Linked DNA regions of Homo sapiens: region 1 is linked to region 2. The links come from fine-mapping of genetic effects on gene expression. A gene starts in region 2. The other region holds a variant in brackets. All regions are shown on one strand. Distances are between the middles of the regions. Region 1 overlaps CBFA2T3 (CBFA2/RUNX1 partner transcriptional co-repressor 3). Region 2 holds the start of PABPN1L (PABPN1 like, cytoplasmic).

Region 1 (8,000 bases), 100 kb before region 2:
AGTGGCCCCATGGGGGCGGCTCTAGGAGGCCACTCTTTAGGCGAAGACAACTTTCACTTCTCACCACATGTGGACCGAGAAGCAGTGCGTCCCGTTAACCTGCCTGGGCGCTGGGCAGGGGTTTTCCGGCACTTTCACTTCCGTGACTGCAGTTGACCGGGGAGGCGCAGGCAGGAAGAGCGGCCTCAGGGAGAGGCCGATTGGTCACAGCTGAGCCAGGACTCGCCGGCCAGTGCTCCTCCGAGGAGACGTCGGCCAGGGGCAGCTGGAGAGAAGCAGGGAAAAGAGAGGCCTGTCTGAGGGCCGCCCACCCACCCTTTGAAGGAACTCCAGCTGGGAGCTGTGGACTGGGTCACTCAGGTCGACTGTTACAAAGCCAGAGGCCGGCCTGCAGCAGGCGCCAATGAAGTTCTCAGCACAAAACCCCCAAGTCCACCCCCAGGACGGCCGCTCCCAGGCCTGTCGGGCAGTTGCCCAGGACACAGGTCCACAGCGGGGACCCCACCGAGGGGCTTCCTCTCCCAGCTCTGCCCACCCCAGGCCCCAGGCAGCTCTCTCAGGTGGGCAGAGAGTGGCTGGGTCACCATGTCATTTGAAAAATCAAGGCCAGGTGCCGTGACTCATGCCTGTAATCCTAGCACTTTGGGAGGCCGAGGCAGGCGGATCACTTGAGGCCAGGATTCCGAGACCAGTCTGGCCAACATGGCAAAACCCTGCCTCTAGTAAATATACAAAAATTAGCTGAGTGTGGTAGTGGGTGCTTGTAATCCCAGCTACTCGGGAGGCTGAGGCGGGAGAATCGTGTGAACCCAGGAGGCAGAGGTTGCAGTGAGCCAAGATTGCGCCCCTGCACTCCAGCCTGGATGACAGAGGGAGACCGTGTCTTTAAAAAAAAAGGAAAATTGAGTTGATGAAAACACGTCAGCCACATCACACCTGCGCACACCCACGGCCCAGCCCTCCCGGCCCGACCCCACCGCGTCGGCCTCCGGCACTCACAGCCCCGGCTGCCTGGCGGCTCCACAAGCCTCCCGAGCCCGTGCCTGTGCTATGCCCTCGCCGAGGAGCCCCCTCCCGACCGACCTCCTTCCCTCGGTGTTCCTCTCCTTCAATCTGTCACCCCATGAGAAAAACCAGCTGCCCCCTTACGTACTACTCATCCCCCGGCCCCCAGCGTCGGCTGCACGAGACAGGGGCTCTGGTGCCTGCTTGCAGCAGGGCCCTCAGCAGACGGTGCTGGCCCAGGAGGGTGCTGAGCCCTGGAAGGCGTGAGTCTATTCCATCTCCAGGCGAGGCGAGGCCTCCGTGCTCCTGGTCCTTCAGTTGTTACTTGGCTGTGTGCATCCTGCTGGTGCTGAGGCAGGGACTGGCTCCACAGTTTTCCCAGGAACTCAGGCCCTGTGGCCCCGGAGGGAAGGGGCAGACGGCAATCCCTTCCCGGCTTTCACCCGGCAACACTTCAAGGGCATCGCTGACCTCAGATGAGGACACAAATCAGAAAGGTCAGGAAACCAGCCGAGCTCACACAGCGGGGCTGGGGTGGGCCACGTCCTCCCAGGCTGTGCATCTCTGCCAGGGACCCTCCCAGAGGCAAGGCAGCTGAGGTCGCATCTCAGGAGAGGGACCCCACTGCACGCCCTGCTCTGAGACGAGAGCCGCGCCCTCAGCTGAGCCCCTCCGAACCCACCTCTCCGTCTCCTTGCTTCACCTGAGGAAGCCCCACGCAGGTGCTGCCTGACACCCGCGTCGCCGACCCCTGGATCAAGCACATCCTGACACCCAGCTGATCACACAGCAAGGCTGCCGGCTTGGGGCCGCCGCCACCGCCTCCTGGAGTGAAATCCTCTCTCGGCCCAGGACAGCTGCAGAGCAGCCGTTTCACTGGCAGCTTTTGGAGAGTGGGCCAACCCCTCCCCCAGGCCTGCCTCCCACTGACGTGAATTTCCATCAGCTTTTCCAGGCGCCCCCTTTGTGGAGACGAGGACTCCTGGGGTGAGGGCCCCAAGTGTGGCTTTCTCCCTGGGAGGAGTGGGGCCAGAAGGCATGCCCTCCTGAGAAGACATGGCAGAAGCCTCCAACAGCCACAGCTTCTGGGGCTCATTTTGGGAGGCCCCTGTGGAGGGGGATGGGGTGAACCCACAGCCTTGCAGAAGATCGGGGGCTCTGCCAAATCGCAACCCCCCAGGCCATGCTCACCCTAACTGGACCGGGTCCACGGTGCCCTCTAGTAGGGCCCACCGGGAGCCCCAGCACCTGCCCCCCGGCACCTGCCACTCGCACCCTGGCAGCCAAGCCTGGCCTGCTGCCCTGAGCCTGCAAGATGCAGCCCCACGGGCGGTGCTGAGGTCTGTGCGTCGTCAGGCCGGCCCCGCCCCCCTCTCCCTCGGCTCCCTGGTCTGTGAGGGGCAGTGGCTGGACCCGACCATGGTGGGAATGGAAACTGCTGTCCACCGGCCACGCTGACCCCAGCCTGTCTCCTGTTTGTAAAACGGGGTGGCGGCGAGCCCCTCCTGAAGGCTGGGGTGGGATTTGGTGAGGAAAGACCCTCTTCCTGGCACTCCTTCCCAAGGGGCCCCGCTCTTGCGACCCCCGCAGCTGGCCCTGCAGACACCAGGCCTCCCACCCCTGCCAAGGCCAGGAGGCACCAGCCGGGAGGGAGCCCAGTAGAGAAGGAACTGGAGAATTCACCCCACCCTGTGGGCTCCCGGAGCTTCCTCCTGAGCTCCCAAGTCCAGGTGTGTTTTGAGTGTCTAGAAAGTCCCGACTTCACAGACCTGAGGGGGACAGAGTGGGGGAGGGGACCTTGCAACCGTCCCTCCAGCCGTGTCCGCTGCAGCCCCTCACTCCAGATGGCGGTGACCCCGGCGGCATCCGGGCCAGGCTGCAGCCGAATCCCAGAGCCGGTGGAGCCAGCCTGACCCAGCCGACTGCTCACGAGAGGATGGGGGATTCCTCAAAACGGGGGCACCAGGCCGCACACTGGGGCTGGGTCTGCTGAGGGCTTGCTCTGGCTGGGCTCCCAGATTTAGAGAGCAGATCTTAGGCTCCTGGCCCCCGATTTGTGTGAGGCCTGCAGCGCTGCAGACCCTGGAGCTCAGAGGGGTTATGGTCCATGGGGGTCACATGGCACTCAGGTCCAGGGCCTCGCCACCCTGTCACTGCAAGTCACCCAATCAGCCCCCACCCGCTGACCGCACACCCCTCCGTGCCAGGCGCAGGGTGCAGAAATGAAAGAGGCGTCCCCGCTGGAGGGGCTCGGTGCAAACTGGACCCCGAAGCTTCTTGCCGCTTATTCCCAAGGGGGCCTGCAGTGGTGGGTGTTGTCCTGACACCCCCAGCCCCAGACAGACGGACTGACAGGCGGGGGACGGACAGCCGTCTCAGCTGCTTCTGCCCCTCCAACACGGCAGCATATTCTAGACCAAGGGTTGGGACCACGTGTTCTAAAAGGTCACCAGCAGGTGACAGAAGATGCCAGTCAGATCTGCCCTCATCTGCTCTCGGCCCCCAGGGGCTTCTCCCACCCCAGGTCCTCCTGAGACGCAGCTGAGGCTGGGCCTGGCTCTGTCCCCACTGCCAGGAGCCGTGAGGCTTGTCCTGCGGCCCCTCAGCTGGGGCTTCCTCGTCTGCAGTGCAAGGGGCCGTCCCCACCTGGGGGGCTCTCCGGGCGGCGGGTGGGAAGGGAGACAGCAGGCAGCCGCTTCCTGGCGAAACTGAAACTGCCAGGTGCTTCCCGCCCCTCCCTACTGAGCCCCTCCCCAGGGCCAGAGACAGCTGGGACGGGCAGTCCTGCGGCCAGGGCCCCTGGCAGTCCCCTGTGGTCCACCCTTATTCGGCCTCTCACCAGGGCGTGCCTCTCTGGGCCTATTTCCTCCAGGTGGGCCCCAGCA[T/A]GGGCGGTATGGGGGGTTCCTCATCAAAGCCCTGTGGTCACATGGTCCCAACTCAGCCCCATGACCCGTCGAACCCACAGAATTTCAGTCACTTTAGTCATGGTGCGAAAAGAAGGATGCAGAAAGCTTAAAAGTTTATAAACTGAACATGTGTGAAAATGGTGACATTCTGGAGGCCACAGAGCGACCTCTCCTCTTTCCCTTCTACTTCCTACCTCTGGCTGCAAGGGAGGGTGGGCGCCTCCACACAGCTCACGCCGACCCCCGCTGGACGCGCTGCTCCGGGGCAGGGGGCGTCCTGAGTTCCCCGGTGCCCTGGACAGGAAGGGGCAGTGTGAGGGCTGAGCCGCGACGAGCCCCCAGGCAGTGTGCGCCTGACCCTCACCCCTGTGCTCTGTGGCTGATCTTTAACCCCCCAGGAGAAGCCAGGTCGCGGGAGCCACGCAGGGCAGCACGCCGTCCCCGTCCCCGGCCTGCTCCTTCCTTCCCTCTTCTTTATAGAAAGGAATTCCTGTAGGTCCAGTGTCCCCAGCCCGGAAGGCCACCCCACCTGGGGGCGGCGAGATGGGATCAAGGGGTTGGGGGGACCTAGCTCAGAGGCTTAGCCACCCCACACCCCACCACGGCTTCCTCATCGGTAAATGGGGCAATAGCAGTCCCCGTCTCCGGCACATCTGTGAAAACTGAACAGGTGGACGCATGGCAGCACTTAGGGTGTGGAAAGCCGTCCCCAGGCATCCTGCCCCGTCCCCGTCGCTCCCAGGCAGTGTGTCTCGCACAGTTACAGAAAAGGCATCGAATTCTCATTTTCCTTTGCAATTTCCTCTCTCGACACCTGCGAGGCTGACTGCATTGAGCATGGTGCTGCCTCGTGTCGGGGCCGAGTGGCACCTCGGGGGCTGGGGGGGTGGCATGGCGCTGCCTCGTGTCGGGGCCGAGTGGCACCTCGGGGGCTGGGGGGTGGCATGGTGCTGCCGCGTGTCGGGGCCGAGTGGCACCTCGGGGGTTGGGGGTTGGGGGTGGCACACACCAGCGCACTGTTCTCAGCTTCCCTATGGAGAGAGGTTGAGTGCGTCAATTTCCCGTGCTACAAACAATGCTTCAATCAAGGATGCTTTCCCTCGTCCCCTGGGGCCCACATGGTTTCTCCAAGGCAAACACAAGACATTGGCCACAGGGACTAGAGTGTGATACGAAGTTCTCATCCTGGGCTTCCAGAGTCCAGGGTGGGTGTGGGCCCTATCCCGGCTTCCTGGGGGAAATGAGCGCCTGGTCTCTGAGGGGCAGCAGTGGGCGTGCTGCATCCGACTTCCATCTGGGTGGCTCTGCAAGCCAGGCAGGGCCAGGGCACGGGAGTCACTGGAGACGCCCCCCACCCCAACCCACCCAGCTCGTGTTCAGAAAGGCCTCTGTCCAGCGCAGGTGTTGGTGATGGCAGGCAGTGGTTCTGGAGGTCAAGAGTGTCCATTGCTCCTGGAGGAATTCCTTGTTTGTGGAAACCAGGGCCGGCCTCCAAGGGAGGCTGGGAAGCTGGGCGCTGGGCAGGGCCTGGCACCGGGTGCTTCTACTGCTTCCACTACTGAGTTCATGGGAGGCCAGAGGTTGATTGGGCCTGGTCCTCGTCTGGACATGGGTTTGGTGGTCACCCCAGGTGGGATGAGGGTGTGGCAGGGGAGGTAGCCCAGCCATGCTGCACAGGTGGGAGAGGGGCCGGGAGGTCTGTGGACTCGCGATCCCCCGCTCTGCTCTCCTCTGTGGGCACTCACAGGGGCTGCCACCCCCCTACCCCGGCACAGGCCTCACTCCTGCCAAGGACCAGGGTAAAATGGCAGCCCTGTTAGCTGGCTGCTCTGGAGTCTGTCCCTAGAGACGGCCTAATGTGGCCAAGATGTGTTTCAGGAAGCCGTGCTGTGACTCAGGTCGGGGAAGTCCTGGGACTGTGCAGGCCAGTGAGCAGAGTGACCCTCAGAGCAGAGCGACCCACACAAACCGGGAAAGCCCACTCCGTCCAGAGGGGCCCCACCTTGCAGCTACGAGAGGAGGCGAGGTCTGCTTTCCCTGGCCAAGGAGTGGCCCAGGGGGAACTCTGTATGCACCCATGCTCTGTGGGGTCTCTCTGTTCCTGCTGCCGAATGGGCCCCCGTCCCCTCCCCTGACATCAGCCCACAGAGGAGGGACCGGGCACAGTGGAGAGGACCTGTCAGGTGCCAAGCACCAGGCCCGATTCTCAAAGCCGGTGGTTCTGTGGGCTTTTAATGCTTTTGTTTGCGAGCTCCCTAAAACTTTTTTTTGACAAGCCAAGTTCCCCTATAAGATGAAATTGCTTACAAAGCAGCCTCACCCAGCCTGGCCACACACAGACCTTATGCTGCTTCGTTTTTGGCAGATAATGGTGGCCCAGGAGCCACTAGAGAGGTTTTCAAACATGACAGGTATCTGTGGACAAGACGTTGTTAAAATAAATAAGGTGACAGCTGCACCCCGCAACCTCACCACTGGGTCACAGAAGAACAGCTGCATACAGTGTGTGAGGCATGTGTTGGCCGTGGCACACACCTGTTCTGCAAACTCTCTGCCCCGCAGGGACCTAGCCCCCTGGGTTGTAGAAGCAGGATTCGGGGCCTGTGGCTGGCGCTGCGCACCAAGTATCCTTCTAAACCAAAGGCTGGACACAGGACCCTTGGCAATGGTGCCACATGGGCCAATTTGCAGCCTCTAAACATTGATTAAACAGTCTCAAAAACTGTATTTTCTAGCATACCTAATATGTTACCAGTGTTTGGCATCTGGTCTTATGAAAATCTGCACATTTAGCTCACTTGATTTATAGAAATGCTGCCTTAAAAACAAAGGGCAGAACTGGTCCTCACTGAAAAACAATCTGCCCAGACTGATGTTTGTCAGATATTAATTCAAATAAGCATGTTATTAAATGATCCAAATGCCTCACTTTGAATTCTAATTGTGATATAGATGGATGGATGTGTGGGTGGGTGGGTGGGTGGATGGATGGATGGATGGATGGATGGATGGATAGATGGGTGGGTGGATAGATGGATGGATGGGTGGATGGATGGATGGATGGAGAAGTGCATAGGTGGTGGGTGGATGGATGGATAGATGGATAAATAGATGGTGGGTGGGGTAGGTGGATGGATGGATAGATGGATAGATGGATGGATGGATGGATGGATGGATGGATGGATGGATGGATAAGTGGATAGATGGTGGATGGATGGATGGATGGACAGTTGGATAGATGGTGGGTGAGTGGATGGATGGGTGGGTGGATAGATAGATGGATGAATAGATGGGTGACTGGATGGATAGATGGTGGATGGATGGGTGGATGGATGGATGAGTGGGTGGATGGATAGATGGGTTGGTGGGTGGATAGATGGATGGGAAGATAAAAAGGTAAGGAAGCAGGAAGGAAAGGTCAAAGTATATTTTTCAAATCTTAAAAACATAGTTCTTATACACACATACAGTAAGCATGTGTGAAAGGTGTATTATTCCGCGATGAGGGAGCCAGTCGGGCAGCCCAGGTGATTCAGAGGGGACGAGGGACATTAAAGACCCCATGAAGAAGGAAAGCCACACGGAACCTGACGAGTGGGAATTAGTGAAGTGCAATCTTTCTTCAGAACAACAAGTAGCTTGCAACTTGTCAGTTTTCTGCACCCTAACCCTAACTGAAGCCTCACCAGCAGTAAATTAAAAGTCAAAAGAGGCCACTGGGCCCTTGGCAGCCTGGCTAACACCAGGAGGGCCAGAAGTCAACGTGATTTTTTACACCTTTGGGTCTGTGGTTTCCGAACAGGAGGCAGGCAGGGCATGGGGCCTGCCCCAGGTTTTCACTGGTGGGTCGAAGCCCTGTCATCAGACTCATGCTAGAGAGAGGCAACCCATGAATTGGGGGAAGAGCAGGCAGGAGCAGCACACAGCTGACCCCAAGCCGTGTTTGCAGAACAATCTGGAAGGTGAAGACCCACATATGGATTCCTTTAAGCCGATCGGCCCAGGTATGCAGATGGTCTTGTGTGCGTGGCCCTTTAAAGACCCCCATAGAGCTGTGCCACCTACCTCACAGGTGCAGGGCTGGGAGCT
Region 2 (10,294 bases):
CTGCTCCATTTTCCCGAAGTTCTAGGAAACTCCATTTTGGACACTTTCTGTTCTTTATGTTTCAATCCAGCCAAGCCCCGGAGTAGCTTCCCAAAGACCCAGAGGAACGGGAACTCAGCGTCAGTACTCAGAGTGAAACCTGCTTTTGAAATACGTCAATGACGGCAACAGGCCTCCCTTGTCCCCACCTGGCTGGGGTGGGGAGCCCCGCCAGGCCAGCTGTCAGCTCCCCAACCCCATCTGCCAGGGCCGAGGGGGTCGGGCCGGTGAGGACCAGGCGGGGGCACAGCCATGTGCAGCCTGGTGGGGAGGGGACTTACTCTCTACTTTCTCCTCCTCTTTTTTTTGACTCTCCCAGAGGAGTTGAGTTGTTTTCTGTAGTTGTGAGAAGCCCATGCCCTGGGTCTGCAGGCTGTGCAGGGCTGCGAGGTGGCCCTCGCCGCTCCGTCTGACGTACTATGGGTTTGGCCTGTAGATGCTGTGAGATGCAATAGTCGGGTTAGCGCCGTGTCCGTGTAATAAAGCGAACGTTCGCTGTCGCCTGGCTGTTCCTCTCCTTGGGTCCCAGGAGGCTTCGGCTGAGCCTCGTCTCACCCGTGAATTCACTAATTACCTGCTGGGGCTCCTCCGTGCCTGGTAGGGCGGGGCCTCCCCATGCACCACGCACACTGCAGGGACAAACAGGCCAGTGTGTGACGTGGGGCTGGGGCGACGGGGAAGAGGCAGGGCGGGAGCACGACGGGGAAGAGGCAGGGCGGGAGCACACAGGCAGGGAGGAGCAGCAGCCCCAGCCACGAGGGTCCCTGCAGGGCTGGCAACGGCTGAGCCTGCAAAGGGGACTTTGGGGGGGTCCCAACAACTTTACACCCGGGAGATGGTCCTGAGGATTCCAAGACTGGAGCCCCTGCCTGAGCAGCCCCACCTCAGACAGTGCTGGGGCTGGGGCCATGACACCTCCGACCCCGATGGGGGACACAGGGGACCTCAGGGGACACAGACAACACTGAGGGGAGGCCAGGCACGGTGGCTCACGCCTGTCATCCCGGCACTTTGGGAGGCCGAGGCGGGTGGATTGCCTGAGGTCAGGAGTTCAAGACCAGCCTGGCCAACATGGTGAAACCCCATCTCTTCTAAAAATACAAAAAATTAGCTGGGTGTGGTGGCGGGTGCCTGTAATCTCAGCTACTTGGGAGGCTGAGGCAGGAGAATCCCTTGAACTCAGGAGGTGGAGGTTGCAGTGAGCCGAGATCGTGCCACTGCACTCCAGTCTGGGCAACAGAGTGAGACTCCATCTCAAAAAAAAAAAAGAAATGAAAACTGAGGGGACACAGGGGACCTGAGGGTGGACAGCACAGGAAGGGACGGCTTGCCCCTCTCAGCCACCCCCATGGGGCCCTGGTGTTGGGTCACACACGGATCCTGTCTGGAATAGGAGTTGTCCTGGGCGCTGGGGCCCCAGGGGCCAGGCTGCCATGAATCCTCAGGCCCGGCTCTGGAACAGGGTGTATTTGAAGAGTGTCACTGGAAAGGCCAGGGTCGGAGCCGTCTGTCCCCTGCCAGGCAGCTGGCAGGAGCCCTGGCCGGGCCTTGTGTGTCAGCAATCTCAGACAGGGTGAGGATGACAAGGTTTTCCATGGCCGGGGCCCGAGCTCAGAGGGGCATGCGTCAGGGCCTGGGCCGAGTCCAGCAGACTCTGGTCTTGGATGGAACTGGTTGCAATCCTGCCTCTGACAGGGAGGTGGAGGCACGGGTGCTGGCAGACCCTCCAACACACAGGCACAGACACACGGGGCAGGGGGCTCCATCCCAACAGGAGGATCCCAGGCTGAGGCCGCACTCCACCCAGCGTACCTGTCCTCGGTGCAGATGTGGGCGCTGCCCCTGAGGAGCTTTGGTTTCTAAGGGGAGAGCTGGCCAAGTCATCAACACTGGACGGACAGCAGGAAAGGCGTGAGGACAGCGGCTCTCGAGGGAGGAGGAGCAGCCCGGCAGCCCTCCCGGAAACAGTGGCACCGTGTTCGCAGGGGGAACAGCGTCCAGGGACCACGCACACGTAAGTGTGTGGCTGTGCGGAGCCAGGGAGAGGGGAAGGGGCGTCCAGGGCCATAGCCAGGTTCCAGACAAGGCCCATTCCTCCCCGACCTCATGAGCCTGCCCCAGAAAATCCTCTGGGTGGTGAACAGATGGGGTGACAGCATGGTCTTCAGTCAGCCTCCTGGAGGTGGGAAAAGAAAACAGAATTTCGGGACCTAAAACGCACTAAGCCAAAGGGAAAAGTCAAGCTGGGAGCCGAATCACACACACCTGCCTCCCATTTTCTTCCTAATTGGACAGCCACGAAGATGAAGAAGCCTGTGCCTCCTCGCATCGCGCTTACAGGGAAATTCCTTGTGGGTCCCAAGATCTTGGCTCTGAAACAGTTCTGCTGGATCCCACCCAGATAGTGTGATCTAGCAGCTTATCTTCCCAGGTATGGGACAAAGGACAGAGCTAACGTTACCCTCCGCTCACCGGAGGCGAATGCGAACCTGCCAGCTTCCTATTCCCTGTGGCAGTTTTATCTTCTGTGGAAACGCAGAGTCGCTGAGCGTGGGGCTACGTAATTCTCTTCTCTACCCCCACCTTCCACATTTCAAAATGTGCATTTGGTGACTGCCAATCAGAGATTCAAAGGAACGCTACCACTTGCCTTTTATCCGCCCTCCCTTTTCTTTCCTTCCTGTGTTCCCCTCCTGCCCGCTCTTTCCCTTTAAGTATAAAAGTCTCCAAACCCTCTTTGGGTTTTTTTGTTTTTGTTTTTTGAGACAGTCTCACTCCGTCGCCCAGGCCGGAGTGCAGTGGCGCGATCTCGGCTCACTGCAACCTCTGCCTCCCGGGTTCAAGTGATTCTCCTGCCTCAGCCTCCCAAGTATCTGGGATTACAGGCGCCCGCCACCATGCCTGGCTAATTGTTTTTGTATTTTTAGTAGAGACAGGGTTTCACCATGTTGGCCAGGCTGGTTTTGAACTCCTGACCTTAAGTGATCCGCTCACCTCGGCCTCCCAGACTGCTGGGATTATAGGCGTGAGCCACCATGCCCGGCCTCCAAACCCTCTTTGGAAAAAGCAGAGCACAGATGTTGCCTGTGGCTTCGTGTTTCTTTTTCCTGGGTGCACCCTTAACCTTGGCAAGATACACCTCTAAACTGATTGATTGAGACCCATCTCAGACACCTTCTGGCTTTTACAGAGGTGAGAACAGACTGGGTGCAGGAGCCTGGGTTCCCAGGCTGTGGCAGCCTCCATGTCCACCTGCTCCCCGAGCCCCCAGCCCAAGATGGAGGAAGGGCCGCCCTGCGTGGGTGGTGCATGGTGCAGCAGTGCAGCTCCAGCCTAGGCCACGCCCTGTCTCTCTCTCCTCCCCCAGTCCCAAATTCCCAGGAATCCCAGCCCCACTGGCTAAACACCGGGGTGCAGTCACAGAGAGGATGGCCTCGGCCTGGGGGTAGGAGCTGTGCAGGGGGCCCCGTCTCCCACCACCAATGGCAGGGGTAAGAGCCATGCATGACCCCCTGGCCCCGAGTCCTTCACAGAGTGGGTGGGAGACGGCAGCACTGGAGATGAAGGCCAGAGCAGACTCCAGCAGCCGCGGTGGCAGGTGCAGAGGGAGGCGCAAGGGCGGACACGGGTCACCTCCTGCTGCAACCCTGCATGGGTGAAGCCAGGTGCAGACACCACCGGATGCCCACTGAATTCCGCCACAGTAACTCACGCCGTCACTCCCCACGGAGACCCCGCCCCACAATAACTCACGCCGTCACTCCCCACGGAGCCCCCGCCCCACAGCAGAATAATTCTGGCCTCATGGAAGTGGCTCCCACCTAAAAGATGACCCAGACCAGGTGCGGTGCTCACGCCTGTAATCCCAGCACTTCGGGAGGCCGAGTCGGGCGGATCACCTGAGGTCAGGAGTTCGAGACCAGCCTGGGCAACATGGTGAAACCCTGTCTCTACTAAAAAGACAAAAAAAATTAGCTGGGCATGGTGGCAGGTGCCTGTAATCCCAGCTACTCAGGAGGCTGAGGCAGGAGAATCACCCGAACCTGGGAGGCAAAGGTTGCCGTGAGCCGAGATCGCGCCACCGCACTCCAGACTTGGCAACAAAGCAAGACTCCTGCCTAAAAAAAAAAGAAAAAAAAAAAAAAGGCCCAGAATAAGGGTTAGGGAGGCAAGGGTCCCTGGGGACTCCATGGGGGTCAGGATGCAGAGACAGCTGTTGCTGCCCCTCCTCTGGGCCCAGGACCCCGCCCCAACCTGCCTCGGCCCTCTCATCCCATGCACCTGCTCTCGGTCTCTGCTCAGGCCCTGCCTCTCCTGGTCGGAAGCCACCTCTCCAGCCTGCTTGGTCCCTGGTACTAGAAGAAACCACTCCCGTGTTCCCACTTAGATCGAGTGTTCATGCAGTGTGGCGTTCGTGCCGTGTGGATGCTGCTGAGGTGTGAACCCTGTCACAGACCAAGGCTCCAGTGAGCCACAGCGTGGCCAGGCGGAAGCAGAAGAGACCGGTGACCCCCACTCAACTCAGCCTCTCCTTCCTCCAGGGAGAGTGTCCTGGAGGTACCTGTCCGAGTGACAGGGAAGGGGCGGGGCCGGGAGCCAAGGCTGGAAGCTCAGCCCCACTCAGCCTTTGCAAATGCTCTAGTGGGAGCAGCTGGCCTCAGGGGAGGGCTTAAAACTCCAGGAGAGCCTGGGCAGGTGCGGACGCGAGGGGAGTGGAGGGGAGGCCTCGCCTGGCCCACCTTCCTCCTGCCCCTCTACCATGTGGCCCTTCCCGAGCCGCTCTCTCTTCCCACCCCCGACTCAGGCCTGGCTCCAGACGGTCTCCTCAGACCCTGAGGCCCAGGGCTGGGGGGCCTGGAACGAGACCAAGGAGATTCTGGGGCCAGAGGGTGGGGAAGGGAAGGAGGAGAAAGAGGAGGAAGAGGATGCAGAGGAAGACCAGGATGGGGATGCAGGCTTTCTGCTGTCTCTGCTGGAGCAAGAGAACCTGGCTGAGTGCCCATTGCCTGACCAGGTAACAGCTGTGTGGAGGCCCTGGGGATCTCAGGGGACCTGGGGCACAGGGGCTGGTGGAGACACGGGGTCTGGGTGACGGATGGCTGCAGCTGACTTAGGAGGGGAGAGGGCCATTGCCCACCTGCCTGGACGAAGGTGGCAAGGAGACCCCCCGCCCCCAGCCACACAGACTGCAGGGTCAAGGTGGCCTCTCTCGCCTGGGGAAGGGCCCTTGAGGTGCGGTTTCGGGGGCTTCTCTGCAGGGGCGAGTTCATCCCCAGCCAGCTGCCCCAGGAAGGAGTGTCCCTGTCCAGAGAAGGGCTGCCCCTTGGGGCTGTGACCCTCTGCTGGAGCTGGCAGGCCACACACCCACCTTCCTTGAGCAGAGCCTGCAGGCTGCCTGCCCGGCTCAGGGCCGTGTGTCGGCAGGAGCTGGAGGCCATCAAGATGAAGGTGTGTGCCATGGAGCAGGCCGAGGGGACGCCACGGCCTCCAGGAGTGCAGCAACAGGCCGAGGAAGAGGAGGGCACCGCGGCCGGGCAGCTGCTGAGCCCTGAGACCGTGGGTAGGAACCAAGGGCACAGGCCGCCCCCCACTGAGCAAGGGTCCCACAGTTTCCATTAAGGTTGGGCCTGGCAGGCTCCAAGGTGTCACCTCCCCTATAAGCCTGGGCGACCTTCCCCGTGAGAGGAGTGAGGAAGGAACCAAGGGCCTGCGGGCCTGAGCTGTGTTCTCCGCAGGCTGCCCCCTCTCTGGGACCCCCGAGGAGAAGGTGGAGGCTGACCACAGATCCGTCTACGTGGGCAACGTGAGTGGTGGGCGGGGTGAAGGGGCAGGCAGCGAATGGGGCCCCATCTCTACCAGAGGGTCTGGCGCCCGGCCATGGGCCAGGCAGCCTTGCTGGGAAGGGGGTCTGACCCTGGGGGCAGCCCCGTCACCTTGAGGAAACACTGGCCTGGGCACATATTCCAGTTTTTCAACATGAGCTGGAATTCGGGGTTGCACATGAAATCTCCACTTTTGAGAAGCTTTTTAAAAGGCTCCAGCTCTCCAGAAGGAAGCGCTCCATACGAGATATCCTTTCCTCTCTTCCCTCCAACCCCAGCGGGGGTGTGGGGTGGAGGCCTGGGGCCATCCCCGCCACGGGGCCCAGCCTTGGGGTTTCTTTCCTCACCTCTAACAAGAAGGCCCCGAGTCAGGGCCAGGCGTCTCCCTCACATGCTGGTCTGGGCCTGGGTGCAGGTGGACTACGGGGGCTCCGCCGAGGAGCTGGAGGCCCACTTCAGCCGCTGTGGGGAGGTCCACCGAGTCACGATCCTGTGTGACAAGTTCTCTGGACACCCCAAGGGGTCAGTGTGGGGCCTGGTGGGGGCACTGGCCATGCGGACAGGGCCCAGCCTCACCCCTCCCCTCCCTGCCCCTCCCCTCAGTTATGCCTACATAGAGTTTGCCACCAAGGGCTCCGTGCAGGCCGCCGTGGAGCTGGACCAGAGCCTCTTCCGGGGCCGGGTCATCAAGGTGCGCCGGTGCTCCCCAGGTCCAGGAACATGAGCGCAGAGGGGCTGGCCCACTGGCCCTGGGACACACAGCAGCCCCAGCTGGCTCCTCTCTGCACAGCGTGTCTCAGGCACGGTGCTTGGCTGGGCCTGGACAGGATGTGGCGGGACCCTCGGACCTGAAGCTGGGTTTGGTCTGCCAGTGGCATGGTGGGGAAGTGTCCCCTCTCGGGCGGGAGCCCCCTCTGCAGGGGTGCTGGCCGTGACCCCCCCCTCTGCAGGGGTGCTGGCCGTGACCCCCCCCTCTGCAGGGGTGCTGGCCGTGACGGGGTGTCATATGACAGCTATGGTAGGCAAAGGCAGGGAACCCTGTAGGCCCGAATGGTATCCTGAGCCGGGCAGGACCCCATGCTCCGGGGTGGTGGGGGCTGCGGGGGCTGTGAGCTGGGTCTCGGCTGCTCCTTGAGGAGGACTCAAAACAGGCCTTTGCTCCAGGTGCTGCCGAAAAGAACCAACTTCCCTGGGATCAGCTCCACAGACCGCGGGGGCCTTCGAGGACACCCAGGCTCCAGGGGGGCACCCTTCCCCCACAGCGGCCTCCAGGGCAGGCCCCGGCTCAGACCACAAGGGCAGAACCGGTGAGTGGGTGCCTGTGGGGGCAGCCTGGGGGCGAGGGCCATGGTGGAGGGCATCAGGGGCAGGAGGGGGTCCCTGAGCTCGTTCCTCATGGGGCTGCAGGAATGTACCTGGCGGGGCCTGGGTGAGGGCTGTGGCTGCTGCATCAGCTGGTGGGGGGGGCGCTTTTTGTAGCCTCTCTGCTGGGAGAGGTGACCCCTTCTTGTTCCCACAAAGGCCCCAGGGTGGGCTACAGCTGCCCCAAGGGGCTCTCCTGGCACTGCCTTTCCTTTTCGTGGGACCCTCCCAAGAGAGCAGCTGGGAGTCACCAGAAAGGCCCCTGGGGCATTGCCTGAGCAGCCAGGTGACCTCCCTGCATCCTTATCCTGTTGTCCCCCGGGGCCCTGGGCCACCACCCCTTCTCCTCTGGAAGGCCACTCAGTGTGTGTTCTCTCTCCGTGCAGGGCCCGTGGAAAATTCTCACCATGGTTTTCACCGTATTAAAGGGAAGACCCGATTTTGAGAGAGGGGCTGGGGCCTGGATCAGGAGTAAACCACTTGTGCTCCATCCTGGGGCTGGGGCAGGGAGTGGCGCGGGGGCGAGGCCAGAGGAGAGGGGTGTCCAGAGCAGCCACTGGCCCCCTCTTGGCGGGGGGATGGCCCAGTAGGGCCTTGTATGGTGGTCCAGACCCAAGGCCACAGCCACGAGTCACAGCCACGGCCCGGTGGTGAGCCTGGCATGGGCCCCACGGGGATCTGCGGGGCTCTGGGTGTTGAGGGAGGGGAGGAGCAGAGTCCCAGGCAGTGCCAGGCCAGCTTGGGGTTGGCATGCTCAGCTCTTCAACTAAGTCATTTTAAGAAAAATAGAAACGTGTGTCTTAATGGTGAAGCATAAATTATTAAACTTGGGCTCTTTTTAAAAGCAAATGGCAGCAGCACTCCTGTGCATTCCCCCCATGGACACAGTTCCCTTTGCATCTCTCCCTGGGACGGGACACGCGGTTCCCTCCGCGTCTCCCCGTGGGACGGGGCGCGCGGTTCCCTCCGCGTCTCCCCGTGGGACGGGACACAGAAGGCGGCTGGCGAGCCGTGGCTGTGGGATGAGGACAGGGCTCCAGACCCCTCGCGACTGACAGCAAGCGGGCAGCGTGCACAGGCTGAGGCGGTGTCAATGCCACTGCCAGCCTGGTGGGCTGCAACTGCCTGTCAAGGTGCCCCCACACCTCGTAACCCTGCCACATGTCCCCCACCAAGTGACACAGACACCCGGGACGCTGGCCCTTGTCAGAAGCTCAGGAAGCAGAAGTGGAGGTCTCTGTCCTGGGCACTTTGACGACTGTCCCCTCTGAAAGCACAGCCAGTCGGGCTCCCTGGCTGCATGCACGGCCGCAGAAGCCCAAGGCTGCTTATGTGCACACACCTGACTCCAGCATTCCACGACTAACAGCGCCTCATCAGGCACTGTTTCCTTGGGCTTAAAATGGGGATGCTGCCTAACAAGGCTTGTGAAAACGCCCTCATGTAAAAAGTACTTACAGGTGGGTCTGGCTGCACCTAACAGAAAACCCAAAAATCAGTGGCTTAAACCAGAGAGGGGTGCATTTATTTTCTCACATTAAAAAAAAAGCTGAATTTAAGTAGTCTGGGGCTGGTATGTCAGCAAAGGCCCAGGGTCCTTCCCGCGTTCTGCGTCAGCAAAGGCCCAGGGTCCTTCCTGTGTTCTGCTCCACTGTCCTTAGGGTGTGACCCTTTCCTCACGCTCTCAGGACAGCTGTCCCAGCACCAGCCATCACATCCATGTTCCAGGCAGGAAGAAGGCAAAGGGGAAGGGTCCTGCATGTGGCAGCTGAGTCCCCTTCACAGGAGCTTCCCTGCAAGTCTCTCCCAGCACCACCCACCTCCACGCCACAGCTGCACACCCCGGGCTGCAAGGGAGCCCAGGACATGGCTCTCGTCTGCCCGCTATTGGAACTGGGCAGAGGCACCGGGGTTCTGTTAGTACGGAGGAAAGAGAATGGACGCTGGGTTAGCAACTTGCAGAGTCCCCACCACAGCCAGGACTCGGGCAGGAGTGATCCCCACTAAAAGGCAAAGATTTCATGCCAGGCTGCAATGGGGAAGTGCTTGGGCTGGGGTCCCACCTTCTCCTAACAAACATGAGGCTCTTGTTAAAGATTTAACCTTGTGAGAGTGGTCTGTGGCCCACATGCACCCAGATCAGCTGCCTGGTGTGCCTCGGCCCATTCCAGGGCTTCCAATTCACCCTGGGGCGGGGGAGGCCTGGGGCATGCAGTTTTCCCACACTCCTTGCTGATTTTTTCTTCTATAATTTCTAAAATTAACACTGTGCTTGCTAGATGGGATGAAAAGGCAAATATGTATCAAGAAAGTTCCCCTCCCTAGGTCCTGCCCTAGGCTGACCCCCCCTTACAGCCTTTCCTGCTGCAAGGGCTTCTGGGGTCCTCAAGGTCCTTGAGAAACTCTCCAGTCCTGGACCAGTGCTGGAACCAACTCCGGGGGGGTCCCCTCAGCGGGCTGAGCCTTGACCGCTGGACCCCAAGGACGCCGGCGGCACTGACGCCACTATGGGCTCGGCCGCTGCCCTGGGTGGTAGTCAGCCACGTCATCAAGTGACACAGCACCCAACCCCCTCAGCACCAACAGGCAGGAGGGGGTGCCTCAAGTCTGCGCTCCAAGGTTTAGGACCAGGGCTGCAGCTGAGCCAACGCCGCGGGGCCACGAGGCTTCCCAGGTTTCACAAGGGCTCCTTTTAAGGCCGGGCGGAATCCAGACATTGAGCCAGATGCAAAGAATGGAGGCCAAGTCCAGAAAGAGGAGGGCCCTCCCCTGTGGGAAGCCACGCCGGCTCCCCTTGTGCCCCTAGATCCTAGGCTGGTTCTGGGCTCAGGAGGCCACCCCCTCCAGACCAGCCCACCTGTTCAGCCAGTGGGTGACCCACATGGTCACAGGTCCTGCAGGCTCAGGAACTCTTGGCTCCAGGCACCCCTGCCTCTGCCCCTTTGGGACAACTGAGGACAGGCTACCTGCGCCATCTGATCCCAAACCTCTGCCCACACCCCAGAAAAGTCCTTAGTTGAATTCTTCTTAATTAAATCCTTGGCTGACACGGAAGGAAAAAGCCAAATCTC

The links. PIP is the estimated chance that this variant, and not a neighbour inherited with it, causes the effect.
Region 1: its variant is fine-mapped to the expression of PABPN1L in whole blood (TOPMed, PIP 0.97).

The regions. Positions count from the first base shown.
Region 1 is chr16:88,964,014-88,972,013 of GRCh38, reverse strand. All of the region lies in intron 1 of CBFA2T3 (CBFA2/RUNX1 partner transcriptional co-repressor 3), which reads left to right. Among named protein-coding and RNA genes, the nearest start is that of CBFA2T3, 9.2 kb to the left of the region's middle. RefSeq lists enhancers at 114-253, 2,146-3,001, 3,971-4,030, 5,823-5,882 and a silencer at 4,261-4,310. The variant T/A (reference allele first, on the strand shown) is at 3,891.
Region 2 is chr16:88,861,111-88,871,404 of GRCh38, reverse strand. PABPN1L (PABPN1 like, cytoplasmic) reads left to right here and starts at 4,745. Exons shown (of 7, transcript NM_001080487.4): 1 at 4,745-5,053; 2 at 5,464-5,599; 3 at 5,775-5,842; 4 at 6,277-6,383; 5 at 6,465-6,552; 6 at 7,026-7,168; 7 at 7,610-8,072. The coding sequence starts at 4,799. The coding sequence ends at 7,649. TRAPPC2L (trafficking protein particle complex subunit 2L) reads right to left here. Exons shown (of 5, transcript NM_001318525.2): 5 at 8,727-10,294. RefSeq lists enhancers at 38-177, 6,895-7,645.